Linked DNA regions of Homo sapiens. The protein of the gene in region 1 purifies or fractionates together with the protein of each later gene. This does not show direct contact. Each region holds a gene or a part of one and is shown in the gene's direction. Other genes may lie near its edges. The genes, in order: SERPINB13, C9orf78, RNF34, BSDC1, GLMP, BRAP and ADD2.

What was found.
Region 2: the proteins of SERPINB13 (region 1) and C9orf78 purify together in Homo sapiens (affinity purification with mass spectrometry; one large-scale study listed by BioGRID and IntAct). This does not show direct contact.
Region 3: the proteins of SERPINB13 (region 1) and RNF34 purify together in Homo sapiens (affinity purification with mass spectrometry; 2 studies listed by BioGRID and IntAct, with this or other methods). This does not show direct contact.
Region 4: the proteins of SERPINB13 (region 1) and BSDC1 purify together in Homo sapiens (affinity purification with mass spectrometry; 2 studies listed by BioGRID and IntAct, with this or other methods). This does not show direct contact.
Region 5: the proteins of SERPINB13 (region 1) and GLMP purify together in Homo sapiens (affinity purification with mass spectrometry; one large-scale study listed by BioGRID and IntAct). This does not show direct contact.
Region 6: the proteins of SERPINB13 (region 1) and BRAP purify together in Homo sapiens (affinity purification with mass spectrometry; 2 studies listed by BioGRID and IntAct, with this or other methods). This does not show direct contact.
Region 7: the proteins of SERPINB13 (region 1) and ADD2 purify together in Homo sapiens (affinity purification with mass spectrometry; 2 studies listed by BioGRID and IntAct, with this or other methods). This does not show direct contact.

What each region holds. Positions count from the first base shown.
Region 1 is NC_000018.10:63,593,412-63,597,484, forward strand, and holds part of SERPINB13 (serpin B13), read left to right. Parts: intron 1-614; exon of another isoform or gene 615-763; coding exon of another isoform or gene 764-827; intron 828-943; coding exon 944-1,086; intron 1,087-1,617; coding exon 1,618-1,773; intron 1,774-3,547; coding exon 3,548-3,952; 3' UTR 3,953-4,073. UniProt on the Homo sapiens protein: May play a role in the proliferation or differentiation of keratinocytes.
Region 2 is NC_000009.12:129,829,131-129,832,446, reverse strand, and holds part of C9orf78 (splicing factor C9orf78), read left to right. Parts: intron 1-473; coding exon 474-551; intron 552-1,378; coding exon 1,379-1,576; intron 1,577-2,905; coding exon 2,906-3,042; intron 3,043-3,143; coding exon 3,144-3,242; intron 3,243-3,316. UniProt on the Homo sapiens protein: Plays a role in pre-mRNA splicing by promoting usage of the upstream 3'-splice site at alternative NAGNAG splice sites; these are sites featuring alternative acceptor motifs separated by only a few nucleotides. May also modulate exon inclusion events.
Region 3 is NC_000012.12:121,402,879-121,406,951, forward strand, and holds part of RNF34 (E3 ubiquitin-protein ligase RNF34), read left to right. Parts: intron 1-1,970; exon of another isoform or gene 1,971-2,235; intron 2,236-4,073. UniProt on the Homo sapiens protein: E3 ubiquitin-protein ligase that regulates several biological processes through the ubiquitin-mediated proteasomal degradation of various target proteins.
Region 4 is NC_000001.11:32,380,797-32,384,869, reverse strand, and holds part of BSDC1 (BSD domain-containing protein 1), read left to right. Parts: intron 1-821; coding exon of another isoform or gene 822-872; coding exon 873-1,040; intron 1,041-3,601; coding exon 3,602-3,656; intron 3,657-4,073.
Region 5 is NC_000001.11:156,292,880-156,296,938, reverse strand, and holds the start of GLMP (glycosylated lysosomal membrane protein isoform 1 precursor), read left to right. Parts: upstream 1-1,259; 5' UTR 1,260-1,293; coding exon 1,294-1,413; exon of another isoform or gene 1,414-1,642; intron 1,643-1,922; coding exon 1,923-2,180; exon of another isoform or gene 2,181-2,263; intron 2,264-2,373; coding exon 2,374-2,574; intron 2,575-2,702; coding exon 2,703-2,921; intron 2,922-3,228; exon of another isoform or gene 3,229-3,321; intron 3,322-3,362; coding exon 3,363-3,619; intron 3,620-3,729; coding exon 3,730-3,895; coding exon of another isoform or gene 3,896-3,927; 3' UTR 3,928-4,059. UniProt on the Homo sapiens protein: Required to protect lysosomal transporter MFSD1 from lysosomal proteolysis and for MFSD1 lysosomal localization.
Region 6 is NC_000012.12:111,675,643-111,679,715, reverse strand, and holds part of BRAP (BRCA1-associated protein), read left to right. Parts: intron 1-375; coding exon 376-565; intron 566-4,073. UniProt on the Homo sapiens protein: Negatively regulates MAP kinase activation by limiting the formation of Raf/MEK complexes probably by inactivation of the KSR1 scaffold protein.
Region 7 is NC_000002.12:70,702,009-70,706,081, reverse strand, and holds part of ADD2 (beta-adducin), read left to right. Parts: intron 1-1,622; coding exon 1,623-1,761; intron 1,762-4,073. UniProt on the Homo sapiens protein: Membrane-cytoskeleton-associated protein that promotes the assembly of the spectrin-actin network. Binds to the erythrocyte membrane receptor SLC2A1/GLUT1 and may therefore provide a link between the spectrin cytoskeleton to the plasma membrane.

The sequences.
Region 1 (4,073 bases):
AACACGCAGCTCTCCCATCAAGACTTGTCGTTCCCATCCACAGCTGGGGCCACCTAGTCTTCATCTTCACTTAAGCATAGTGCAGGGGTAACGACAACCTACAGCTCTCCCCACAGCAGAGGATTTGACAAGTTTCTTATCCCATTATTCCTTTCTCATCCCCTGGTATGGGAAATCCACAGAGAAATGTTAATGTGGAAATTCACCTTGGGGAGCAATAGCTGATACTTTAGTGTTAGAGTTTCAGATTCCATTTTTATACCAATTATCAGAGAGAACTTTGTTATTCAGAATGTGTTTTTTTTTTCCCCTCATGCTTGGTCTGAAGAAAGGAAATAAAAGAAACAGAAAAAATAGGATCTTTCAAAAAGTTGAACAGTATTTTTTAGAATTTATTGTGGGATGGGGTGAACTCAGAGACAAAAATATCAACTCCTTCTCCAATATAATAAGTAATCCCTTAATCTCAGGTGGTAACTATATTGAATGGTAAGCATAATAGCTAACACAGAGTGCTTATTATGTGTGAGATGGTATTCTAATAGCTTTACATGTGTTAAATCATTTGTTCCTTTCAACAACCCTATGAGGCAGATTTTATTCCTATTTTACAGATGTGGAAACTGAGGCACAGAGAGTTTAAATAACTTGCCCAAGATTCCTCAGCTGATAAGAGGCAAACTGGATGCTAACAGAGGCATCTGACCCCAGAGTCTGGACTCTTAACCATGAACCTTAATTTATCCACTGGGATAAATAGGCGATGGGCAAAATGAGAACCTCCCCGTCGATTCTGCCAGCAAACCCTTTGTCAGCAAGGCCCTCAGGTGCTGACCTGGCTGGGTTTTTAATGATCAGTCAAGTCCATCTGCATCATATTTGTCATACATATTATTTGTCATTTGGAAGATGGGTCAACCTTTTTCTGTTTCTTCATTTGCAGAAAAAATCAAGGACTTGTTCCCAGATGGCTCTATTAGTAGCTCTACCAAGCTGGTGCTGGTGAACATGGTTTATTTTAAAGGGCAATGGGACAGGGAGTTTAAGAAAGAAAATACTAAGGAAGAGAAATTTTGGATGAATAAGGTATGGCCCTTAGTTTATTTTCGTGATGTGCTTACACATGGAATGTAAAGTCTAAAGTCATGGCTGGGCGTGGTGGCTGACACCTGTAATCCCAGCACTTTGGGAGGCCAAGGTGGGTGGATCATGAGATCAAGGGATCGAGACTATCCTTGCCAACATGGTGAAACCCCGTATCTACTAAAAACATAAAAATTAGCTGGGTGTGGTGGTGCACGCCGGTAGTCCCAGCTACTTGGGAGGCTGAGGCAGGACAATTGCTTGAACCCGGGAGGCAGAGGTTGCAGTGAGCCAAGATCATGCCACTGCACTCCAGCCTGGTGACAGAGTGAGACTCCATCCCCCACCCCCCCAAAAAAATCTAAAGTCATATTTGAGCAAATGCATACTGGTAGATAGTGGATGCTCATTCTGAGACTCTGATATTGGGTTTTATTTTAGATTGAGCTAATTATTTTGATGAACTAACTTGGTTGCCTTAATGCCTTTGGTCTTATGTCCTTTGATATTGTGTGCTCTGTTAATTTGTTGCAGAGCACAAGTAAATCTGTACAGATGATGACACAGAGCCATTCCTTTAGCTTCACTTTCCTGGAGGACTTGCAGGCCAAAATTCTAGGGATTCCATATAAAAACAACGACCTAAGCATGTTTGTGCTTCTGCCCAACGACATCGATGGCCTGGAGAAGGTAAACGCTTACACCTCCTTATTCTTTCTTTCATTTCCTAAGGCTTTTTGTCTCAGGGCTTCTGAGTAGGAGCTGGTGGCCAGCAGTGTCAAATAGAAAGTGTTTCTCACTCTCCAGCAGCTACAGATGGATGTCTACTGGGGAGCATTAAATAGTATGGGTCAGGTTTATTGAGAACAACTAATCCTAGAATGTTTGGGATGAACTAAAATGAACATTTAAGATTATATGGGAGTCCTAACGATCACCCACCATTCTGAGAAATGGTTGGTATCTATGGACCCCTTTCCTGGAAAAAAGAAATCACATATGCATATATACAACCAGTTCTGCACACTGTTCAATAGGCTTTTGGAGCTTTTGAATTTCTTTCTTACACTCTTACACCATTGATTTAGTCTCATCCATTCTGTGGTTAAAAAAATTATGTGAAGGCCGGGCGTGGTGGCTCACGCCTGTAATCCCAGCACTTTAGGAGGCTGAGGCGGGCGGATCACGAGGTCAGGAGATCGAGACCATCCTGGCTAACACGGTGAAACCCCGTCTCTACTAAAAATACAAAAAATTAGCCTGGCGTGGTTGTGGGCGCCTGTAGTCCCAGCTACTCGGGAGGCTGAGACAGGAGAATGGCGTGAACCTGGGAGGTGGAGCTTGCAGTGAGCCGAGATAGCGCCACTGCACTCCGCCTGGGTGACAGAACGAGACTCTGTCTCAAAATTAAATAAATAAATAAATAAATAAATAAATAAATAAATAAATAAATAAATTGTGGCTAGTGTCCTGTATTTTGAAAATGAGGAGAGTTTTGTTTCAAATCCCTGTTCCTCTAGTGGCTTTCTGACCCTTGAAGCTTCTTAACTTCCTTGAACTTCAATACTTTCCCATCTCTGAAGAGGGCTCCATGGTGGTTAACGTGCAGCAGTGTTGGAATGATTAGAGAAACGTAGCCTAGAAGGGGTCTAGGACATAGAAAGCACTCAAATGATAACTGCTATCGTCTTATACTACCAGATGCTGTGCTACTTCTGTGAAATATTGCTAGTAGCATTTTAAGTTGGAAAATATTTTGAGACAGCAAAATAGCAATATGTCTGAGAGCTTTAAGAGTATTTCTGATTCAAAAACCCCAGTTGTGGGAATTACTCTAAAGAAATAATGCAGAAGAAAAAAGTTGCCTTTCTGAGTAAAATCAGTTATTTCGGTATTAAATACACTGGAATGCCCAGTTTGAAATTCATCGTAATTATTATTTTGTATCCTTAGTAACTATCAAATCTATCACAATGCCTGATAAAGACTAAATGTTTGTAAAGTGAATGAATAGCTAAATATTGGGAAAAATTTATCAACTTCATAAGAATATTATCTAGCTGTTTGAAGATAGGAGAGATATGCAATATTGTGAAAAAGTTTACTTTTTATCAAATAAAATGGACATTCACTGTGATTGCAACTATGTAAATATATATGCATTCAAAGACTAGGAGAGATAGTTAAAATGAAATATATACTAGGTTGATAAAATAAGAAATGACTTATTTTTAATCTTTAAAAATGTATTCAATGCTATTGGATTTCCACATATACACAGATAATTTAAACAGAGAGATATAAGACAACCGCCTGCAGTATAAAGACAACAATCTAGTGAAATAAAATTTCTACTTTTAATATTACTAAAATTAATAACTTCTGACTGACACAAATCAGTGTTACACTGTTTTAGATTTTTATTGATAATCATGCCATTCTACTCTTCTTTTTTTGAAAATAGATAATAGATAAAATAAGTCCTGAGAAATTGGTAGAGTGGACTAGTCCAGGGCATATGGAAGAAAGAAAGGTGAATCTGCACTTGCCCCGGTTTGAGGTGGAGGACGGTTACGATCTAGAGGCGGTCCTGGCTGCCATGGGGATGGGCGATGCCTTCAGTGAGCACAAAGCCGACTACTCGGGAATGTCGTCAGGCTCCGGGTTGTACGCCCAGAAGTTCCTGCACAGTTCCTTTGTGGCAGTAACTGAGGAAGGCACCGAGGCTGCAGCTGCCACCGGCATAGGCTTTACTGTCACATCCGCCCCAGGTCATGAAAATGTTCACTGCAATCATCCCTTCCTGTTCTTCATCAGGCACAATGAATCCAACAGCATCCTCTTCTTCGGCAGATTTTCTTCTCCTTAAGATGATCGTTGCCATGGCATTGCTGCTTTTAGCAAAAAACAACTACCAGTGTTACTCATATGATTATGAAAATCGTCCATTCTTTTAAATGTTGTCTCACTTGCATTTCCAGTCTTGGCCA
Region 2 (3,316 bases), on another chromosome or scaffold:
TAAATCAAACATTCAAATAATTCAAAAATTAAAAAAATAAAAGTTTACTGTGTACTTTTGTGACAACTATATAGCATTTACATTGTATTTGGTATTATAAGTAATCTAGAGATGATTTAAAGCAGATGGTAGTGTGTGTGTAGGTTAGATGCAGATATTATACTATTTTATGTAAGGGACTTCACTATCTGCAGATTTTGGTATCCTTGAGGGACACTAGAACCAATCCCCCATGGATACCTAAGGATAAGTGTATCCACTCAATCCTTGGAGGTATCACTAGCAGCCAACAGTTTGCTTGCATATATTTCTAGAGTTTCTTTTCTTTACATATACTACGGCATTTTTTTTTTTTTGCCAACTGTAAATAGGATATTATAAATGCTTATGTCTTTGTTTTCTTCTTAGAACATAAAACTCAGCCTCATTGAGTTGTGACTTGAAAGCTCTGCCTCATTGTTCTCTCCCTCCAGGATCAGTGAGGAGGAGGACCTGCACCTGGGGACATCGTTTTCTGCAGAAACCAACCGAAGGGATGAGGATGCAGACATGTAAGTGTCAGTCTGTTTGGCTGTGAGCAGTTGGGGCTGGACTCCAGTCAGAGTCCAAGATATTTAGTCAACAGATGACATTTCTAGAATTTTCTAGAAGATGTCAAAGTTGGCCCCTCTCTTTCTACTTCCCAGCTTAAGAACTTTGAAAACCTCTTAAAAGGTCTTTTCAGGCCGGGCACGGTAGCTCTCACCTGTAGTCCCAGCACTTTGGGAGGCCGAGGCAGGTGGATCATCTGAGGTGGGGAGTTCGAGACCAGACTGACCAACATGGAGAAACCCCGTCCCTACTGAAAATACAAAATTAGCTGGGTGTGGTAGTGGGCACCTGTAATCCCAGCTACTCGGGAGGCTGAGGCAGGAGAATTGCTTGAACCTGGGAGGCAGAGCTTGCGGCGAGCCAAGATCTCGCCATTGCACTCCAGCCTGGGCAACAAGAGTGAAACTCCGTCTCCAAAATATAAAAAATAAAAACTTGTTTTCAAAGGTGGTTTCATGACTAGTAATATTTCCCCAAAACATTGCAGGGATAAAACATGGGCTTGCCCACTTTTTATTTTGCCAACAAAGCTATTGGCAAACTATCATCTTTCTGTCTTCAAAGAACCTTGTACATCATAACACCAATAGATTAGTGGGACATAACCTCATAGGTTGGTGCTTCTTTAGAAAATTTCTAACTTGATGAAAAAACTCAAGTTATTTTTTTTCTCGTTTCTCCATGGACTGTCACTGGTCTGCGGGCCAGTGTTGGGGACCACTGATTTAGAGGACACCTGGTGTGTGTTTCCCACCCCTCCCTGAGGCCTCTGGGTTTCTCACTTCAGGATGAAGTACATTGAGACAGAGCTAAAGAAGAGGAAAGGGATCGTGGAACATGAGGAACAGAAAGTTAAGCCAAAGAATGCAGAGGACTGTCTTTATGAACTTCCAGAAAACATCCGTGTTTCCTCAGCAAAGAAGACCGAGGAGATGCTTTCCAACCAGATGCTGAGTGGCATTCCTGAGGTGGACCTGGGCATCGAGTATGTTTGAGACCCCTAGGCAGAAGACACAGTGCTTTCCAGTTAAAAGTTATGGGGGACAGGCCAGGCACGGTGGCTCATGCCTGTAATCCTAGCACTTTGGGAGGCTGAGGCGGGTGGATCACGAGGTCAGGAGTTCAAGACCAGCCCGGCCAAGATGGTCGAACCCCGTCTCTACTAAAAATACAAAAATTAGCTGGGCATGGTGGCAGGCACCTGTAGTCCAGCTACTTGGGAGGCTGAGGCAGGAAATTGCTTGAACCCTGAAGGTGGAGGTTGCAGTGAGGCGAGATCATGCCACTGCACTCCAGTCTGGCGACAGAGCAAGACTCCATCTCAAAAAAAAAGGAAAAAAAAATTTATGGGGGACAGGTATGGTGGCTGATGCCTATAAGCCTATAATCCCAGTACTTGGGAGGCCAAGGCAGGAGGATCACGTGAGGCCAGGAGATCAGCCTGAGAAATATAGTCAGACTCCTGTCTCTCAAAAAAATTTAAAAAATTAGCTGGGCTGTCACTTGAGCTCAGGAGTTGAGGCTACAGTGAGCCATGATTGCACCACTGCACACCAGTCTGGGTGACAGAGTAAGACCCTTTAAAAAAAAAAAAAAAAGGCCAGACATGGTGACTTGTGCCTGTTATCCTAGCTCTTTGGGAGGCCAAGGTGGGAGGATCACTTGAGCCCAGGAGTTCAAGACCAGCCTGGGCAATGTAATGAGACCCCATGTTCTTATCTGTGTCCTTAGAATCCTACAAATACAAATGAGATTGTCCCTGGCAGGTTGTTGCTAGAAGTTTCGCTGAAGGCTTGATCAGAGTAGTAAGGGCCCCTGACTGCTGGAAGCAAAAGTGGTTCTTTAGCGTGTTACAGCTGTTCAGCTGTATCAGGCCCTTTATTCTTCTGTTTTCTTCTAGCAGGAGCCATGTTAAAGGCTCACTCACCCCTTCTCCCCATGATCCTTCTTAAAATATCCACTTTAAAAGGGAATTGTTATGGAAGAGGTACAATTGTTAGAATAATCTTCTGGTACAGTAGAAAGCTGGGAGGCTTCTGGGCTCTTTTCTGGCCTTTACAAACTTTGAGCCTTAAGCATTTTACTTCTCTGAAGCTCAATTTGCTCTTGATCAGAAGAGCAGAGTAACTGTGGTTCTCCGACAGCCGTGAGAGTCCCGTGAGAATGTGACTACAAGTGTGCTTGATAAAGTGGAGAGCTGTGCCCCAGGACACATGATTTTCTTATGTACTGCTGGGCTGCCAGCCTCACCACTCATGTCTGAGTAGTAAGGTGCTATCATCTTCTAAGTGGTGTGGTTTCTTTCTCTCCATAGTGCTAAAATAAAAAATATCATTTCCACGGAGGATGCCAAGGCCCGTCTGCTGGCAGAGCAGCAGAACAAGAAGAAAGACAGCGAGACCTCCTTCGTGCCTACCAACATGGCTGTGAATTATGTGCAGCACAACAGATGTAAGCCCCTCGGAGAGCAGTCTTGCCCCCATTCCCCTATTTGGGCTGAGATCCCTAGGAACCTCATGTTCTAACGTGTCCCCTGGTCTCTTTGGGTCCAGTTTATCATGAGGAGCTCAACGCGCCCATACGGAGAAACAAAGAAGAGCCCAAGGCCCGGCCCTTGAGAGTAGGTGACACGGAGAAGCCAGAGCCTGAGCGTGAGTGCAACAAAGGCCTCGGGGCTGCCTGGAGTGCTCAGCAATGTGGGAACCCATGGAGGCAGGATGCAGCG
Region 3 (4,073 bases), on another chromosome or scaffold:
TTACATTTTAGAGTTCATCATCTGTTTTTGCAACCTGCTTAATGTCCAAATGGTATGAGAGAAATAATTTAGGATGTAGAATTCCTTCCTTTGTGGTATATGGTCGGATATTTGGTCACTAAGAAAGAGTTAGGTCCCTGCATATTGTATTTCAGTTGAAGCAGCAGTTTTGATAAGAAATCCTTTCACATTCTAAGGAGCATATGTTTCTCAAATGGCTCTAAATAGGATAAAGAGGCCGGGCGCGGTGGCTCACGCCTGTAGTCCCAGCACTTTGGGAGGCCGAGGCAGGCAGATCACAAGGTCAGGAGGTTGAGACCATCCTGGCTAACACAGTGAAACCCTGTCTCTACTAAAAATACAAAAAATTAGCTGGATGTGGTGGCGGGCGCCTGTAGTCCCAGCTACTCTGGAGGCTGAGGCAGGAGAATGGCGTGAACCCGGGAGGCAGAGTTTGCAGTGAGCCAAGATTGCGCCACTGCACTCCAGCCTGGGCAACAGAGCAAGACTCTGTCTCCAAAAAAAAAAACCAAAACAAAAAAAAAAAAGGATAAAGATTTTGCTTTTTTATCAACTGTTTTTTCTGCTTTGCTTTTAGTTATGTAGGAAAGTTTAACCTAACCAAGATTAAACTGTAAAACCGATTATTTTATATCACCGTTGCTAAGATTTAATACATCTTTTTCCTGTCGTTTAACACAGGACATTGAGTTTTAGCAAACTGAAGGTTGTCCAGAGTTTGAAACAAACCCTGGACATATAGTGGGTGAGTTCTCTGAGGAAGCTTTCATTGATGGAAGAACAGTATCGCTCCTTGGTCCTTGTAGATTCATGTAGCATCTGAGACAATTATTTTTGAATTTAAAACTTCTAGGTTCATCCTTAAAATAACTGTGTAAATAATATATTTAACTTAGAGTTATGGCAAGCAAGGTAGACGCTTATGAGAAGAGTCTATGGGTTTATTATTACATTGCTATTTACCTAGTTTAATAAAAAGTGAATGACTGTGTAGTAACATATTAGAGTTTTGGCAAGCAAGATAGACTCTTACGAGAAGAGTCTATGGCATTATTATTACCTTGCTATTTACCTAGTTTAATAAAAAGTGAATGACTTAGATCATTTAGTTTTCTGTTTCTTTTTTTTTTTTTTGAGATGGAATCTCACTCTGTCGCCAGGCTGGAGTGCAGTGGCACGATCTCAGCTCACTGCAACCTCTGCCTCTCGGGTTCAAACAGTTCTCCTGCCTCAGCTTCCCAAGTAGCTGCCATGCCCGGCTAATTTTTTTTTTTTTTCTTCGTATTTAGTAGAGACGGAGTTTCACAATGTTGCCCAGGCTGGTCCCAAACTCCTGAGCTCAGGCAGTCCACTTGCCTTGGCCTCCCAAACTGCTAGGATTACAGGCTTGAGCCATGGCACCTGGCCTAGTTGTCTGTTTTCATACTCATAAACTTTCTTTTCCCACTCTCCCCCTATACTTCTCTTGTGTCTGGCTGTCATTTAATCTTTTTTTTTTTTTTTTTTTTTTTTTGAGATGGAGTCTCTCTTTGTTGCCCAGGCTGGAGTGCGGTGGCACCATCTCAGCTTACTGCAGTCTCCGCCTCAAGTGATTCTCCTGCCTCAGCCTCCTGTGTAGCTGGGACTACAGTTGTGCACCACCACACCCAGCTAATTTTTTTTGGTATTTTTAGTAGAGACCGGGTTTCACCATCTTGGCTAGGCTGGTCTTGAACTCCTGACCTCAAGTGATTCTGGCCTCCTAAAGTGCTGGGATTAGAGGTGTGAGCTACTGCGCCCAGCCTGTCATTTAATCTTCATGGAAACTACCATAGCTTTTCTGATTCTTCGTTCTAGTCTGGCTGGTTGATAATATATTTAATGGAATCATTAAAAGTTTAGGGTTGAAAATTTGTGGTAAATTTGTGAATTCTTTAAATTGAGCATTTTGAAGTATTTTCTCCCCACAGGGATTCTGAAAACATATTAGATTATACACACACAGAAGCAAAGACAGCTGAACCTTGAGGCCATTTGAAAATCCTGGCACTGTGCCAGAAAGAGAGCTGGGCTGCTGCTCTTGCAAAGAAACAGAACACCTTTCCTCTTGCTTTTGTTGACTGTAATGATGTTTCATGGGCTTATATTGTTTGACTCTGACTGAGGAACCTGAGAGAGTCCTTATAACCTTATTGGCTGGAAACTGTCATTCCTACTCTTACGCAGATTATTTAGGTTTGTATTCTTTCCCCTCCCATTTGCTTCCTCTCCTTTGCTCCTACAGAGGGGAGGGGGCTTCTAATTCATTTTTGGGGAGGGAACAGTATGGGAGAAACACTGTCAGTCTCTGCTATGGGAGGAAAAAGAGGGACTTGAATATTGAGGAGTTTCAGTGAAGGAACTGACATGCTTGGCTCAGTACTTTCTGGGACCTTCTCACATTTGTCTTCCTGTAGTGAAGATGGAGTTCTGGTCTCCACTCAACTAGCTGGTAAGCTGCTCTTGGTCAGCTGTATATTATCCAGACTTGGCTACAGAGCTAAGGTTCTGTTCTCCAGTTGATGCTATCAGTAAAAACAAACATTTTAATTTCCATTTGTCTTCTTGCTTTTTTTTTCTTTTTGAGACAGGGTCTTGCTCTGTCACCTAGGCTGGAGTGCAGTGGTGCAATCTCTGCTTACCGCAACCTCCGTCTCCCAGGTTCAAGCAGTTCTCCTGCCTCACCCTTCTGAGTAGCTAGGATTACAGGCATCCACCACCATACCTGGCTAATTTTTGTATTTTTAGTAGAGACGGGGTTTCACCATGTTGACCAGGCTGGTCTGGAACTCCTGACCTCAGATGATCCTCCTGCCTCGGCCTCCCAAAGTGCTGGGATCACAGGCGTGAGCCACCGTGTCCGGCCTCTGTCTTATTTCTTTTTTTTTTTTCTTGAGACGGAGTCTTGCTCTGTTGCCCAGGCTGGAGTGCAGTGGTGCAATCTCGGCTCACTGCAAGCTCTGCCTCCCAGGTTCACGCCATTCTCCTGCCTCAGCCTCCTGAGTAGCTGGGACTACAAGTGCCTGCTACCACGTCCAGCTAATTTTTTGTATTTTTAGTAGAGACGGGGTTTCACCATGTTAGCCAGGATGGTCTCGATCTCCTGACCTTGTGATCTGCCTGCCTCGGCCTCCCAAAGTGCTGGGATTACATGAGCCACCGTGCCCGGCCTGTCTTATTTCTTAATTAGCTCCAAATTGGATGTGGAAAAAAGGTACTGTTACTGGCTCCCTAAAATCTTGGTGCACTGTCTTTGAAGAAAAGAGGAGAACTGGCATTGGATACCAGAATGACATGAGGATATCTAGGTGTCTGAGGCAGTCCAGGCAGGTTTTAGAATTTGATTTCTTATTATGGAATGTGTAAGTTGTTGTTGTTGTTGTTGTTTGAGACAGACTCTTGCTGTGTCGCCCAGGCTGGAGTGCAGTGGCGTGATCTCAGCTCACTGCAGCCTCCGCCTCCCATTTCAAGTGATTCTTGTGCCTCAACCTCCCCAGTGGCTGGGACTACAGGCACTTGCCACCACGCCTGACTAATTTTTTGTATTTCAGTAGAGATGGCGTTTCACCACGTTGCCCACGCTGGTCTCGAACTCCTGAGCTCAAGCAATCCGCCCACTTCAGCCTCCCAAAGTGCTAGGATTACAGGCGTGAGCCACCGCGCCGGGCTGGTGTTAAGTTTTTAAATACGATACCTGGTTTTTAACTGATATAAGCCAGGCAGACCATGGTCCTATGGTGGCTCTACTGAGAGCAGCTTTGGCTTAAGAGAGTGGGTAGGAAAGGGATTAGACTATCAAGAACAAGTCATTTATTTTTAGTAATCACTGATGACTAGAAAATAAACTCCAAACACAGGTGAATTCTCTGAGCTTGGAGTTTTGTGCTAGGCATAGGCAGACAGTTGCCTCATTCTCTTATTCTCTATGTTGTTTTAAACTACATTCATGGTCAAGAGAGGAAATTTAGCTATCTTCACGATTATCGTTCTTTTTTAAAAATATAATTTCAACTTTTAGATTTGGGGGTACACGT
Region 4 (4,073 bases), on another chromosome or scaffold:
TCTTTTTTTTTTCATTCAACAAATATTGTTACCTGTAACAATATGTGCCAGGCACTATGATAGGTTCTAGGTTTAAAATGCTTCAGCAGCTTAATCAAGAGTAAATAAAATTTTCCATGAGGTTTTTAGACCCTTTTCTCAGCACCCTATCCCTGTCTGCTGGAAGGCATTCTGACCAGTGTGGTCTGTATAGTGACCCTCAGTTGGTCCCAGGCAAGGCAAGGCTATCTGTTCTAATCCTGCCCATATGTTTCCAACCTTTTGTACAAAGTATTCTACTTCCTGAGCAATGATGATGATGAAATTGCAGTATTACAATGCTGCAGTTTATTAAGCGTATGCTGTGTGCCAGGCATTGTCCATACCCTATCTTTTAATCTTCATGGTAACCCTATGAAGGATGTATACTTAACCCCATTTTATAATAAGGAAACTGAGGTTCAGAAAGGGTTTCGGTCTCATGACCAACAAGTGGTAGAGCAAGGATTCAAACCAGCTTTGTCTAACTCCGAAGCTAGTACCCTTTCCACCACTCTACCCATAGGCTCTCTTCCCTGTTGATGTGTCTATGGCATGGACCTTCTCTGGCCAAGTTTTGACCGGCCTGACTGACCTTGAAATTTTGATGAAACAGCCAATCAAAGATCTCTGATCTACACAGGCCTACCATGGCCCTGTTCTGCAGCCCCACTTGGGGGATGGAGGACCCTTGCCTCCTCCCTCTCCTGCAGCCCCAGAGACGGGTGAAGGGTCGTGAGCGCTTCCCTGGTCCCCCAACACACGGTACACCTTTGCCCCAATGTTTTACCCCCATACCCCAGATTGCAGCCTGTTCCCGGGGCGCTTGCTTCCTCTGCCCGTTCTCTATACAGACGGAAGGCTCCTCAGGAGCAACAGAGAAGATGAAGAAAGGGTTATCTGACTTCCTAGGGGTGATCTCAGACACCTTTGCCCCTTCGCCAGACAAAACCATCGACTGCGATGTCATCACCCTGATGGGCACACCGTCTGGCACAGCTGAGCCCTATGATGGCACCAAGGTATTCACTGACAGTCTCCCCTGCAGATGCCTAACATCTGTAACCTGGGCTTTAACTTCCATCCTGTACTCACAAAAGCAGCCCATGTTCAGGCCAAAAAATAAATATGGGTATATTATTAATAGTAAATCAGAAAATACCAGTAAGCAAGGACAGGATAATTATTTTTAAACTCACAATTGCATCACCCAAAGAGAACCCCTGATTTCTTATTGGTATATAACCTTACATTTGTTTTTGTTTATAAACATAGGTAAAGATAGTTTGGTTTTTTCTTCTGAACAAAAAAGACATTTTATACATGCAGTTTTGTAACCTACTTTTAAAAAATCAACAAACATAGCATCTTTCCTAATCATCTTTTTTTTTTTTTTTAATGAGACAGGGTCTCACTCTGTCACCCAAGCTCTCTCTGGGGCTCAGTGGCACAATCATGGCTCATTGCAGCCCCGACTTTCCAGGCTCAAGGGTCCTTCCACCTCAGTCTCCTGAGTAGCTGGGACCACTGGCGTGAACCACCACACCCAACTAATTTAAAAAAATTATTTTGGTAGAAACGGGGTCTCACTGTGTTGCCCAGGCTGGTCTCAAATGCCTAGGCTCAAGTGACTCCCAGCTTGGTCTCCCAAAGTGCTAGGATTACAGGAGTGAGCCACTGTGCCCAGCCAGCCATAATTTTTAATGTCTTTAAATTCTTACAAGTGAATATAGCATTATTTATTCCATTATTTCCTTCATGTTGCATATTTGGATTCCTTTCAGCTTTCAAGCATAATAAGGAACGCTGTGGAGAGCATTTTTAGAGGCATAATCTCCACATTTGGGTTATTTAGACTAATTTCTAGTAATACACGTATAGGTAAGGGGAGAGAGGTGTCTTCAGAGCACTTAAAGCAACAGCCACAGTAGCGTATTTTTGCTGCATTTTCTTTTCTTCTTCTTTTTTTTTTTTTTTTTTTTTTGAGACGGTCTCACTCTGTCACCCAGGCTGGAGTGCGGTGGCATGATCCCAGCTCACTGCAGCTTCAACTTCCTGGTCTCAAGTGTTCCTCCCACCTCAACCTCCCTAGTATCCCTAGTAGCGGGGACCACAGGCGTGCACCACCACACCTGGCCTTTTTTTTTTTTTTTTGTAGCGATGAGGTCTCCCTATTCTGCCTAGGCTGGTCTCAAACCCCTGGGCTCAAGTGATCCTCCTACCTCAGCCCCCTAAAGTACTGAGATTACAGGCGTAAGCCACCGCGCCTGGCCACATTGTATTTTCTATTTCATGGAGTGTTTTCTTCTAAATTCACAATATAATGTCATGGCAGTTGGGCCCTCTTCGTAGTTTTTTTGTTTGTTTTTTGTTTTTTGTTTTTTTTTTGAAATAGGGTCTCCCTCTGTCCCCCAGGCTGGAGTGCAGTGGTGCGATCACAGCTCATGGCAGCCTCGATCTCCTAAGGTGCTCCTCCCACCTCAGCCTCCTGAGCAGCTGGGACTATAGGCACACATCACCACGCTCAGCTAATTTTTATGCTTGTAGAAATAGGGTTTCCCCATGTTGCCTAGGCTGGCTTTGTAGCATTTTATCACATTGACTTCTGTTTTTTTTTTTTTTTTTGAGATGGAGTCTCTCTCTGTCGCCCAGACTGGAGTGCAGTGGAGCAATCTCGGCTCACTGCAACCTCCACCTCCTGGGTTCAAGCGATTCTCCTGCCTCAGCATCCTGAGTATCTGGGATTACAGGCGCACATCACCATGCCCGGCTAATTTTTGTATTTTTAGTAGAGATGGGGTTTCACCATGTTGGCCAGGCTGGTTTTGAACTCCAGACCTCCAGAGATCCACCTACCTTGGCCTCCCAGAGTGCTGGGATTACAGGCGTGAGCCACCGCACCCGGCCCACATTGAACTTTTGTTCCAAAAGTACTGATTTTTCAAGTATGTGTTTTAGCACTAGCATTAGCGCCACCACTTAGTGAACATGTGAGTGGAATTGTGAAAATGTTTGATAAGATTTTGAGCTATAACGACAGTGAATTATCACCAGACCGCTTACACATAGCCCATGCTTCCTGCAATACTGAGGAAGAAAGGTGGACTTTGTCTTTGCCAGCTAAGTTTGCCACCCTGTGATCCTAGTGGGAACGTAACTTGGTAGAGACTGGCTATACAATTAATAAATTCTTGAGTGGTTTTAATTTGAGGGAAATTGTGTTATTTTAAAATTTGTCCCTAAATTTTGACTTTATTAACATATTGGCACTAACATTTTTCAAATTTTACTTACTACAAAGCATTTTATACAAATAATTTTGTAGCCTGCTTATGCTGTATTTTCTTAGTTCTTGGGGTAGAATACTGGGTGAAAGGCCATTTTTCTGGGAACCCCAGTTTTGGATGCCTAGCCTAGTGCCCCACTCTCTGTGCCACAGTGCTAATTAACAGATGCCCTGGGGGTATCCCAGCCAACAAGGGAGAAGCTGGATTGTGGTTGACTGAGTATCCTGGCAGAGAAAGGGTGCTTTCTATGCCCAGTATCTCAGAATTTCTGTTTTCCTCTTCTCCTTTTCTTACAGGCTCGCCTCTATAGCCTGCAGTCGGACCCAGCAACCTACTGTAATGAACCAGATGGTGAGAGGGTAGCACTGAGCGGGTGGGCTTGTAGGGCAAGTAGACTAAGGGGGCTGGGTTGTAGACCCTGTTTGTCTCAGGTAGCAGAGGCCGGGCACCCCCTATGTAGGGAGACCAGAGTGAGACTAGTGTGTACCTTATACTTTGTGGGGTGGGTGGATGTTCTCTTTTCTTTCCTGAACTTGAGCTGTCCTGCCCACCCTGCAGGGACTTGGCCCCTCTCATCCCTCATCCTCAGCTCAGCCTCCCTCCCAGCCCTGCTGCCCCCCTTGCCTTCTCTTCAGCTCCTGTTAGCTAAGCCCCTGCCATGCAGCAAACCCCATTATGGGAACTGGAGATCAGAAATGAGCCAAACCCTCCACCTAGTCCAACCCTCCAGGAACTGGCAGTTAAGAGGGGGAAAGCAGAAACAGTCAA
Region 5 (4,059 bases), on another chromosome or scaffold:
GAGATAGAGTTTTGCCCCTTGTTGCTCAGGCTGGAGTGCAATGTCGCAATCTCGGCTCACTGCAACCTCTGCCTCTTAGGTTCAAGCGATTCTCCTGCCTCAGCCTCCCAAATAGCTAGGATTACAGGCGCCTGCCACCATACCTGGCTAATTTTTGTATTTTTAGTAGAGACGGGGTTTCACCATGTTGGTCAGGCTGGTCTCTAACTCCTGACCTTAAGTGATCCACTCACCAAGGCCTCTCAGAGTGTTGGGATTACAGGCGTAAGCCACTGTGCCCGGCCTAGCCCCTTCTTTCTCTCTCTCTCTCTCTCTCTCTCTCTCTCTCTCTATATATATATATATATATATATATATATTTTTTTTTTTTTTTTTTTTTTTTTTTTTTTGAGACGGAGTCTCGCTCTTGTCGCCCAGGCTGGAGTGCAGTGGCACAATCTTGGCTCACTGCAACCTCTACTACCCGGATTCAAGTGATTCTCCTGCCTCAGCCTCCCGAGTAGCTGGGGTTACAGGCGCCTGCCACCGGGATTACAGGGCCCTGCCACCGTGCCCAGTGAATTTTTTGTATTTTTAGTAGAGACGGGCTTTCACCATCTTGGCCAGGCTGGTCTTGAACTCCTGACCTTGTGATCCACCTGCCTCAGCCTCCCAAAGTGCTGGGATTACAGGTGTGAGCCACCGTGCCCGGCCTTTTCTTTCAACATTTAACAAATAAGTTGGCTTTTTTGGAAGTATGTTGTTGTCATTTAGTGACACATCTCTAAATATTTACAATTTTTGTTGAAATGTTAGGCAGGGAAGAAGAACCACATTGTTCCACAGGGAAGAAGAACCACAGAGTTTCATGTGCTGGAGTAGAAAGAAGGTGTATGAGTTCCACAATGGGACAGGGTTGGGAACTTAAGGCAATGTACTGGAGTAGTTCCCTGTTGGGTTTATTTTCTTTAACCTGTCTTTGTGTCAAAATGAGATTTCACGTTCCTCTTAAAACATGCCGTTTGAATACTGTGTTTTTGGCATTGTCCAAGGAAAACTGAAAACTTGTAGCATGAATGTTTTTTTTTTCACTTAAAATCTTGTGACCATATTAAATTGTATTACTTGTAAGAGACTGACGTTTCCTGTTTTAAGATAGAATACAAAGCTGTTCTTTAATACATTAAATGGTGCTGACGAAAGGAAATTTTTTTAAAAAGCAAATAGTTTGGCGGCTCCGCCCTTGAAAGGGATCAGCTGAACGCGAGTCATGTGACCCTCTGGCACCTCTTCCGTCGGCTGAATTGCGGCCGTATGCGCGGCTCTGTGGAGTGCACCTGGGGTTGGGGGCACTGTGCCCCCAGCCCCCTGCTCCTTTGGACTCTACTTCTGTTTGCAGCCCCATTTGGCCTGCTGGGGGAGAAGACCCGCCAGGTGAGGGCCCTGGGGCTACAGCGATAGAAGTTTCAGGAAACGCTACCCTTGCAGGGTGGCTGGAACCGGGCATCCAGGGGCTAGGGGTGGAGGGTGGCTGCCAAGAGGAGGGTTCTTCAACCTGGAGGGTGTGGGAGATGGTCATGGGTCATGGGACGGGATTGTGGAGTAGGGCAAATGTGAGGGTGATGTCTGGACCCCGACTCAGCCCTGGGTGACCCAGGTCCAGGCAAGTGTTGAATGTTTTCTTCTTCGCAGCCCTGTGCCCTGACCCGCCCACCAGGGTCAGGGGAGTCCTGGCTGTACCCTCTACCCTACCCCTTTTCATCCTGTCCCCACTGCCCCTTACCCCAGGGTTCCCTCAGCTCCCGCACACATTCCTCTTGTCTAGTCCCCAAAATCCCATCCTTTGTCCAGCACTTTCCAAGCCCCCCTCCCCTCAAGCTTCTCTTTTGCCTGTGTCTCTCCTTGGTCCTGTTCCCTCAACCCTCCACTACTCCATGTTCCAGGTGTCTCTGGAGGTCATCCCTAACTGGCTGGGCCCCCTGCAGAACCTGCTTCATATACGGGCAGTGGGCACCAATTCCACACTGCACTATGTGTGGAGCAGCCTGGGGCCTCTGGCAGTGGTAATGGTGGCCACCAACACCCCCCACAGCACCCTGAGCGTCAACTGGAGCCTCCTGCTATCCCCTGAGCCCGATGGGGGCCTGATGGTGCTCCCTAAGGACAGCATTCAGTTTTCTTCTGCCCTTGTTTTTACCAGGGTGAGGAGGTTGGGAGAGAACCAAGGAGAAGAGTGCAGAGGAGAGAGTTCATCCCAATTAGAGGGTGGAACTAAAGACTGGGGGTGGGTGAAATAGACTCAGATATGAAAGCCTTGGTAGGGGGTGAGTGGGAGGTGTGGTCTCGGGAGAAAAACTGAGGCAAGCCCAGTTCCACCCTACCCCCACCCTCCAGCTGCTTGAGTTTGACAGCACCAACGTGTCCGATACGGCAGCAAAGCCTTTGGGAAGACCATATCCTCCATACTCCTTGGCCGATTTCTCTTGGAACAACATCACTGATTCATTGGATCCTGCCACCCTGAGTGCCACATTTCAAGGCCACCCCATGAACGACCCTACCAGGACTTTTGCCAATGGCAGCCTGGCCTTCAGGGTAAGGCGTGAGAAATCGGAAAGAGCTCAAAAAGGCTGATTTGTGAGGGTGGGATTTAATGATGGAGGTGGCCCTTAAGCACAGGCATCCAGCTATTTCCCACACCTCCCATGCTTCTTCCTTCCTAGGTCCAGGCCTTTTCCAGGTCCAGCCGACCAGCCCAACCCCCTCGCCTCCTGCACACAGCAGACACCTGTCAGCTAGAGGTGGCCCTGATTGGAGCCTCTCCCCGGGGAAACCGTTCCCTGTTTGGGCTGGAGGTAGCCACATTGGGCCAGGGCCCTGACTGCCCCTCAATGCAGGAGCAGCACTCCATCGACGATGAATATGCACCGGCCGTCTTCCAGGTCAGGCTTCCTGGAGAGAGGCAGATGGGTGAGGAATGTAGGTGGGACACCATTGGGACCTAAAACTCATTCAACCATTTGCCATTTAGCAACACTTTCTTTGGGTCGTTTAAGAGCTAGGCACTGTGCTAATGAATCTGACCCAGTCTCTGCCCTCAGTGGAGACAGACAGAAAGTGCAATATGACTTACACTCTGGCAGATGGAGATCTGCAAGGGGGCTAGGGGCCAAGAGGAGGGCTGAGTCCAGACTTGGAGGTTTGGAAAACAACTCAGTCCTCACCCAGTCGAACTCCCCATTTTTACAGAGGAGGGATTGAGGCCCTGCCTAGGACTCAGGACTCCTGCTGCTAGTCACAGAATAAGGCTGGGAGTGGCAAGGAAAAGAGGGTCGGGCACAGGTTGGTCCTCTTTACCCTCCCTTGTTTGCCTTTCTTCCCAGTTGGACCAGCTACTGTGGGGCTCCCTCCCATCAGGCTTTGCACAGTGGCGACCAGTGGCTTACTCCCAGAAGCCGGGGGGCCGAGAATCAGCCCTGCCCTGCCAAGCTTCCCCTCTTCATCCTGCCTTAGCATACTCTCTTCCCCAGTCACCCATTGTCCGAGCCTTCTTTGGGTCCCAGAATAACTTCTGTGCCTTCAATCTGACGTTCGGGGCTTCCACAGGCCCTGGCTATTGGGACCAACACTACCTCAGCTGGTGAGAGCCAGGGTTTGGGCCGGGGACTTGGGGAGTTGAAGTGGACAAAGGCTGAGCCTCCCAGCCTTTCCTCCTAAGCCCGCTTACCTCTCTCTCTCTGCTTGCTCTAGGTCGATGCTCCTGGGTGTGGGCTTCCCTCCAGTGGACGGCTTGTCCCCACTAGTCCTGGGCATCATGGCAGTGGCCCTGGGTGCCCCAGGGCTCATGCTGCTAGGGGGCGGCTTGGTTCTGCTGCTGCACCACAAGAAGTACTCAGAGTACCAGTCCATAAATTAAGGCCCGCTCTCTGGAGGGAAGGACATTACTGAACCTGTCTTGCTGTGCCTCGAAACTCTGGAGGTTGGAGCATCAAGTTCCAGCCGGCCCCTTCACTCCCCCATCTTGCTTTTCTGTGGAACCTCAGAGGCCAGCCTCGACTTCCTGGAGACCCCCAGGTGGGG
Region 6 (4,073 bases), on another chromosome or scaffold:
TTTTAGTAGAGATGGGGTTTCACCGTGTTAGCCAGGATGGTCTCGATCTCCTGACCTCGTGATCCACCCGCCTCGGCCTGCCAAAGTGCTGGGATTACGAGCATGAGCTACTGTGCCTGGCCACCAGTGACAGATTATTATTCAAACATTGATGAGAGTAAAACACTGCAAATTTACCGAATGCAGATTTATAACCGTAATAAATGTTGAACTGAAGATTAAAAAGTCCAATGGGGGGTATAATATAGAACAGTTCATTAATGAAATATTACAATTTTTATTTTTTCCTGTTTTCTTGGACATAAAAGTTGTCTAGTATTGTTTAAACTAACCATACCTCATCTATTCAAGACACTCTAATTTTTTTTTTGTTAGTAAGATGACCTCCTTAAAAGAAGATGTGCGGCGCAGTGCCATGCTGTGTATTCTCACAGTCCCTGCTGCAATGACCAGTCATGACCTTATGAAGTTTGTTGCCCCATTTAACGAAGTAATTGAACAAATGAAAATTATCAGAGACTCTACTCCCAACCAATATATGGTGCTGATAAAGTTTCGTGCACAGGTAAAAGTTATTAAATTTATTAAAAATCTCTTTGCCACAGAAACTGTGGTATTCAAACTGTATGATAGCTGTGTGTGATTTACAACATTTTGCACTTAAGATTCTTGAGATGTCTTCTAAGATATAATTGTAATTCTAGATGTATTTCTAAATTCATTAGCAGAAATACAATTATAACGTATACACTTTTTTTTTTTTCGGTAGAGATGAGATCTTGCTGTGTTTTCCAGGCTACTCTTGGCCTCAAGCAATCCTCCTGCCTTGGCCTCCCAAAGTGCTAGGATTACAGATGCTCTGAGCCACTGCACCTGGCCTCATGCCCATGATTTTTTATAGATCAGATTGAGTATGAAGTTTAGGGTTTTGCAAGGAGGCAGAGGTTGCAGAAAGCTGACATCACACCACTGCACTCCAGCCTGGGTGGCAAGAGTGAGACTCCGTCTCAAAAAAAAAAAAAAAAAAAATCTAGTGTGTTTTTTTGTTTGTTTCTTTTTGAGACGAATTCTCGCTCTGTCGCCCAGGCTGGAGTGCAGTGGTGTGGTATCGGCTCACTGCAACCTCCGCCTCCCGGGTTCAAGCGATTTTCCTGCCTCAACCTCCTGAGTAGCTGGGACTACAGGCATGCACCACCATGCCTGGCTAATTTTTGTATTTTTAGTGCAGACAGAGTTTCACTATGTTGGCCAGGCTGGTCTCGAACTCCTGACCTTGTGATCCACCCGCCTCAGTCTCCCAAAGTGCTAGGATTACAGGCGTGAGCCATCATGCCCGGCCTGTTTGTTTTTTTAAACAAGCGGTAACTATTCCAGAAAAGCGGTGGTTCCCAGACTTTTTGAAGTTAACACCATCTTATTATTTTTCCATTACCCCCACTTCTTTCATTTTTTTTTTTTTTTTTTTTGAGACGGAGTTTCACTCTTGTTGCCCAGGCTGGAGTGCAATGGCACGATCTCAGCTCACAGCAACCTCCACCTCCTGGGTTCAAGCCATTCTGCCTCAGCCTCCGGAGTAGCTGGGATTATAGGCATGCACCACCATGCCTGGCTAATTTTGTATTTTCAGTAGAGGCGGAGTTTCTCCATGTTGGTCAGGCTGGTCTCAAACTCTGGACCTCAGGTGATCTGCCCGCCCCAGCCTCCCAAAGTGCTGGGATTACAGGCGTGAGCGACTGCACCCGGCCTCATTCTCTTTTTAGTGGGGGAAGAGTGTACCTGTTCTGTGATCTCCAGAGAGAAGCTTTAGTGTGGAGTTCTGTCTGCAAGAGAGTACACAGTTATTATGTTTTCTGTTTACAAAGTACCCCATCATTTAGGGAGACATTTAAAAGGTTTCAATTATCCTTTGGATTTAAAGTTTACAAGTTGACATTAAGAACAGAAAAGCACTTGAATAGCTCCTTTCACTGTCCATCAGAAAGCCTTCCAAGGGTGCCAAGGAGCTTTGCAAACCATGGGAAAATCGTGCCTTAAGCCATTTCAGTCTGGTAGCACATGTAATAATAAGGATAATGATGATAATATCCAACGTTTATCGATGGCTTCTGTATCACTCACTGTGCTAAGTGTTCAATACACTTTGTCTCATTTAATCCTCACTACAATCCCTTGCGGAAACTGTGTTGTTATCTTTGTTTTACAGATGAGGAGGGTGACTGCAGAGGGAGATACATGGTTTGCCCAAGGTTACATAGCTAGACATAAATGACAAGCAAGAGTGTGGCACCCTCACTTTTAATTCCAGGGACGCGTTCCTCTTCTAGTAGGAGTGGGATGAAGGTGTGGGGAAGGGAGGCGGTTGTTTGTGAGACATTCTATGACAGCAGTATTGTTACAGTTTCTACTTAACAACTAGGGCAATAAGCAAGTAACAAAGGAAAAGACCCAGAAATAGATTGGGAAAAAAATGTTGAAGAGCACTCAGGCTTTTGAAATAGTCTGAAGTCGTATAAATCCACCACAGTCACCTGTTTAATAAACCCACACAGTTCCCTATAACAAGTACTGCCCTTCATAATGTGCAGGTAGTACTGTGGATATTTACTGTGAATGAATTTTCCTTGTACATCTGCACTATCCTTCCCCTTGTGTCTTTTGATCAAGTGAAGGTTGCTCAAGTTGACATGTTTTTCTGAGACTGCGAAACAGGTTGCTGCATGCTCTTCCCCATGGGGCTAGAACCCTTTATCTTGGTATCATGAGTTGTATTATTTATTGCTAACTCTGGGTCTTAGGGGCTAATCCCTATCATCCTAACAGGGATTTTCTAATACCTAATAATACCCTCTTGGTGTAAGACTGGAAGTTAAACTAATATCGGCTGTAGTGAGAATAATAGGCTCAGTAGCTACCAACTCTGAAGCACTTACTAGAGACCGGACCCTGTGCCAAGTGCTTTCCATGCATTGTCTCCTTGAATCCTCTCAACGATGCCATGTTGGCCAGGTGCAGTGCCTCATGCCTTTAATCCCAGCACTTTGGGAGAGACCAAGGTGGGCGGAACACTTGAGGGCAGTGGTTTGAGACCAGCCTGGCCAACATGGTAAAAGCTTATGTCTACTAAAAATATAAAACTTAGCTGGATGTGGTGGCGCACGCCTGTAATCTCAGCCACTTGAAAGGCTGAGGCAGGAGAAACTATTGAACCTGGGATGTGGAGGTTGCAGTGAGTCAAGATCACACCACTGTACTCCAGCCTGGGCAACAGAGCGAGACTCTGTCTCAAAAAAAAAAATGCCATGTATTTTACAGTTGAGGAAACAGGCACAGATAAGTCACTTGCCTGCAGCCAAACAGCTAGTAGGTGTCAGAGTTAGGGTTCAAACCTAGGCAGCCTGACTCCATAGCCTGGGCACCTAACTATGTTTTTATTCTTTTCCTCACCACAGATTTTTAAATAAGGACTTATAAGCCTTCTCTTTATCTTTGGTAATTTTTGAATTTCTGTTGGCCTTAGCTTTAGCTGAAAGAGTTGTGAGGCCAGGTGTGGTGGCTCATGTCTGTAATCCCAACACCTTGGGAGGCCAAGACAGGAGTATTGCTTAAGGCCAGGGGTTCAAGACCAGCCTGGGCAACATGGCAAGATCCTGTTTCTTAAAAATTTTTTTTAAAAGATCAAAAAAAAAGGGGGGGTGTGCTTACCAATTTGTAGTGTGACCCTTAGGAAACTTGGTCTTTGGGTAGAGAATTTACAGTTCTTCAGGACATAGGAAAAGCAGAAGGAAGTTCAATTTTGTTGTTCTTGGGGGCAGAAAAGGACAGATGACCACTTAATAGAGTATGTTGGCTTTTTTCACCTGCGTGCTTAGTTACCACAGCCTTAGCAGACACCTCCTTGGAGAAGTAGAGGTATGTTCTCAACACTGTAGTTGATTCCTGTGACAGCGAAGGAACTTGATCATAATGGATTTGTCTTTTTCTGAGTTAATCCTCAGAAGAGAACAATAAAACCAAAGGACTAGAGGGAAACAAAAGCCAGGTTTATTTAAAGTTTTGGGTCCACACAATGCAAA
Region 7 (4,073 bases), on another chromosome or scaffold:
ACCTGGGGCCTTGACACTCTCCCTTGTAACTGGTGGATGGCAGAACCTGGCTTGTGTGTGGCAGTTTGGCTTGGTGCGGGGGGAGGTGGGACGGAGACAGGAGTCCCCCTCAGTTTCCTGTGCCCCTTCGGAGCCTCAGTTCCCAGTCTTCCCTCCTCACCAAAAGCTATGACAGTGAACGGACAAATCCATGTAAACTAGAGACCAGCAGGGTGCCAGGAGGAGGGCTTGGGGCTCCCTTTACTGAACACCACAAAGTAAGAACTTTCTGTCGGGACAAATGAAGCTTTGACATGAATGGGATGGGGCTGAGGAGAGCCTGGAAGCCCCAGGAGGTGGGCAGAGTGGAGGGCTCAGCCGGGCTGTGGGATGGGGTGTGGGAAGGGAAGGCAAGTCGGGATCACTCACATCCCTCCTTACTTGGGGCCAGTTGGTTCCTGCCTGGCATGGACACAGCTCCTCCTTGAGGCAGGTAGTGCCTTGAGAAGGCCGAAGGGTGGGCCCTGTGGACCACTGAAGGCAGAGGGAGATCACTGTGGTGGAGGCAAGAGGGGTCTGACTGAGGAAGAGCTTGGGGGGCCTCAGGAATCAGCCCATGATCCTAAGGATCGGGAAGCCCAGGGACAGAGTTGGCATCTCCAATTGCTTGCCAGGATGGGCTCGAGATGGGAGCCGCTCTGCCTTGGCCTTCTGGGCTCCAGAGAGCCAGGGCCTGTGCAGGGGCTGTGTGAGACCCTGGCTGGGAGCCATGGTGCATACTCAGGCCACACAGAGCAGCTCCAGGGAATGGGCCGAGGTCCAATATCTGTGCCCAGATATTGTGTTGGGGAGCTGGGAGGAATATGGCAGATGCTGAAAGCATTGGGGTGAAGAGCCTCTGGGAAAACCCCCAGAGTGTGACTAGGAGGGGTGGCAAGGGGGTTAGGAGAGGCGGCAGAGTTAGCACCAGCCCAGATTTCAGGGCTCAGGCAGTAAATAGGGGTTGGAGGAGGGCCTGCTTCCTTCTTCCCTTTTACAGGTTGGCCAACACACCTAAGTGGCCCCCCATTTCCTCCTGAGTGTTTTCTCCTGCCACCTGGTGGGCAGGATTCCTTGCTTATGGCTTCATGGTCTGAAAAGCCAGGCTTAGAGTTGGACATCAGGAGTGGAAGTGACCTCAGAGGTCATCAAATCTTCCTGTTCTTCCTCCTACCCTTTCATTAAGCACATGAGGAAACTGAAGCCCGAAAGAATCACAGGCATCGCTAATGGAGAGGGATGGTGGCTCTCTCCATTCAGTTCTGCCTAAAAAAATGTCCTTCATTACTAAAGTGAAGTCCTACCATGTCTGATGGTGGGGAGGGGTCTTGGCCCTCATTTAGACACAGAAAGGACCTGGAATCTGGATTACTGCCCACAGGGCAAGGGAACACAAGATCCATTCCCAGCATTTCTTTGTTGCTTCCCATACAGCAATTCCTGAGGTCCTAGTGGAACTGCTCAGTGTCCCCTGTAGCTGGGGACCCTGAGCATGGCCCTGACCTAGCTGACCCAGGGGCAAGGGGTGGGCACTTGGAAGAGCTCATTGTTGGGCAGCTGTGTGAGAGGCTGTGGGGGGACAAGCACCTCGGGGCCTGCTTCAGTCTTTCAGGGAGGAGCTGGAAGGCCTCATCCAGGAGCAGATGAAGAAGGGGAACAACTCCTCCAACATCTGGGCCCTGCGACAGATCGCGGACTTCATGGCCAGCACCTCCCACGCAGTCTTCCCGACATCTTCCATGAGTATGTGGTGTCTGGGGAGCTGCCAGGAGCAGAGGTGGAGGGGAGGGTGGGGTGGGGAAGAGAGGGAGGAGCAGCAAGAAGCATCTGGTTGCCAGGCTATGGAGTAAGCAGCCCATTGTGTTATCAGGCCTTGGGGAGCTCAGCAGCAGCCAGAGAGGTACCTGGCTCTGCTTCTGATGTTGCTGCAAATTAAACGTCCACAGAAAAATTACCCCAATGCCAGGAATAAGAGGGTGGAGGTGACTTCAGTGGACGGGAAGAGACCACTGAAGCCTGTGTTTCCATGCCCCACTAGACAGGCCAACCTGACTCCACAGATGAGGGCTGAGAGGAGCCAGCCAGGGCTATGCAGGAAGCCACCCTCCTGGGCTGTTATGCTCTGCCCATAACGTTTAAAACACAAGCATCAAAAAATAACTCCCCCTCAATAAGATTATTACAGGATTATGGCTGAAAACTGTGAAAATAACCAAGAAAGGGAAGCAGAAATCATTCTACTGTGTTCTTAAAGCCCTCATATTACTATTCTTAATATTTTGGTGAACATATATCCTTCCAGTCCTTTTTTTCTTAACATATATAGATTATGCAAACACAAATGTAATCACATAAAATATGGTTCTATAATATAATTTTTGGTGGATACATGCTATTTAATAAATTTCCCATTGTTGGACTTTTAGGTTATTTCCAACTTTTTCTGTTAGGAACAATGCAATAAACATCCTTGTAAATAAACCTGAGATTATATCCGTGATTATTTTCTTAAGATAAATTACTAGTAGAATTGCTGAATTGAAGTACATGCATGCATGTTTTAAAGACTTTAATGCAGAATGGCAGATTACATCCTTTCTCCAAATGGATCCAATTTACGTTCCCAACAGTAATGCGGTAGAGTGCCCATTTCCTCTACCCTGGTCCATAGTGTATACTACCATTTGTTTCATCCTCCTGATTCAGTAGGTGACAAATAATACTTTATTTGTGTTTTAATGTGCATTTGTTTGACTACTGATGAGGTTGGATATATTAATGTATTTTCACATACATATTGGACATGATTTTCTTCCTTTCTCTCTCTCTTTCTCTTTCTCTCTTTCTCTTTCTTTCGTTTTCTTTTCTTCTTCCTTTCCTTTCCTTTTTCTTTTCTTTCTTTTCTTTTCTTCTTCCTTTCCTTTTTCTTTTCTTTCCTTTCTTTCACGCAGAATCTCACTCTGTTGCCCAGGCTAGAGTGTAGTGGTGCAATCTCAGCCCACTGCAACCTTCCAGGCTCAAGCAATCCTCCCACTTCAGCCTGCCAAGTAGCTGGGACCACGGGCACGCACCACATGCCTGGCTAATTTTTGTATTTTTTGTGGAGACAGGGTTTCACCATGTTGCCCAGGCTGGTTTGGCACTTCTGGGTTCAAGTGATCCACCCACCCCGGTCTCCCAAAGTGTTAGCATTACAGACGTGAGCCACCGTGCCCGCCCCTGACTTTCTTTTTATAGTAAATTGCCTTTTTACATCCTTTGCCTATTTTCCTATTAGTGTATTATTTTCTTATAGATTTTTACATTTTTATAAAGTAAAGCTGTTTCTCTATTATCTGTCAAATATATTGCTTTTTTTTTTTCCAGTTTCTCCTTTGTCTTTTAGTTTTGTCCATGGCATTTTTTTTGTCTTGTAGAATTCTTTAGTTTCTGTGTAGCGGAAACCATTGTAATTTTCCTTTGTGTGTTCTGCTTTTGATTGCATGCTTAGAAATACCTTTCCCATGTTTCATCATCTGATGGAACAAATACCCTTAATTATGCATTTGTCAATTTTCCTCAACTGTTTGTACAAGTTTATTCTTTACAATAACTTTAGGCCAGGCACAATGGTTCATGCCTGTAATCCCAGCACTTTGGGAGGCCAAAGCAGGTGGATCACCTGAGGTCAGGAGTTTGAGACCAGCCCGGCCAACATGGTGACACCCTGTCTCTACTAAAAATATAAAAATTAGCCAGGCATGGTGTTGCATGCCTGTAATCCCAGCTACTTGGGAGGCTGAGGTGGGAGAATTGTTTGAACCCTAGAGGTGGAGGTTGCAGTGAGCTGAGATTGCACCACTGCACTCCAGTCTGAGTGACAGAGCAAGATTCCATCTCAAAAAAGCAAAAACAAAAATCAAACTTTAGAATTATTTTATCAAGTCCCCCCATTGACCTTAAAAATTCCTTTTGGGATTTTGATTGGGATTACATTAAACGAATAAATTGATTTGGTGAAGAATTTATAAATTTATAATTTTATATTAGAATGTAAGCTCTGTAGGGGAAATTTG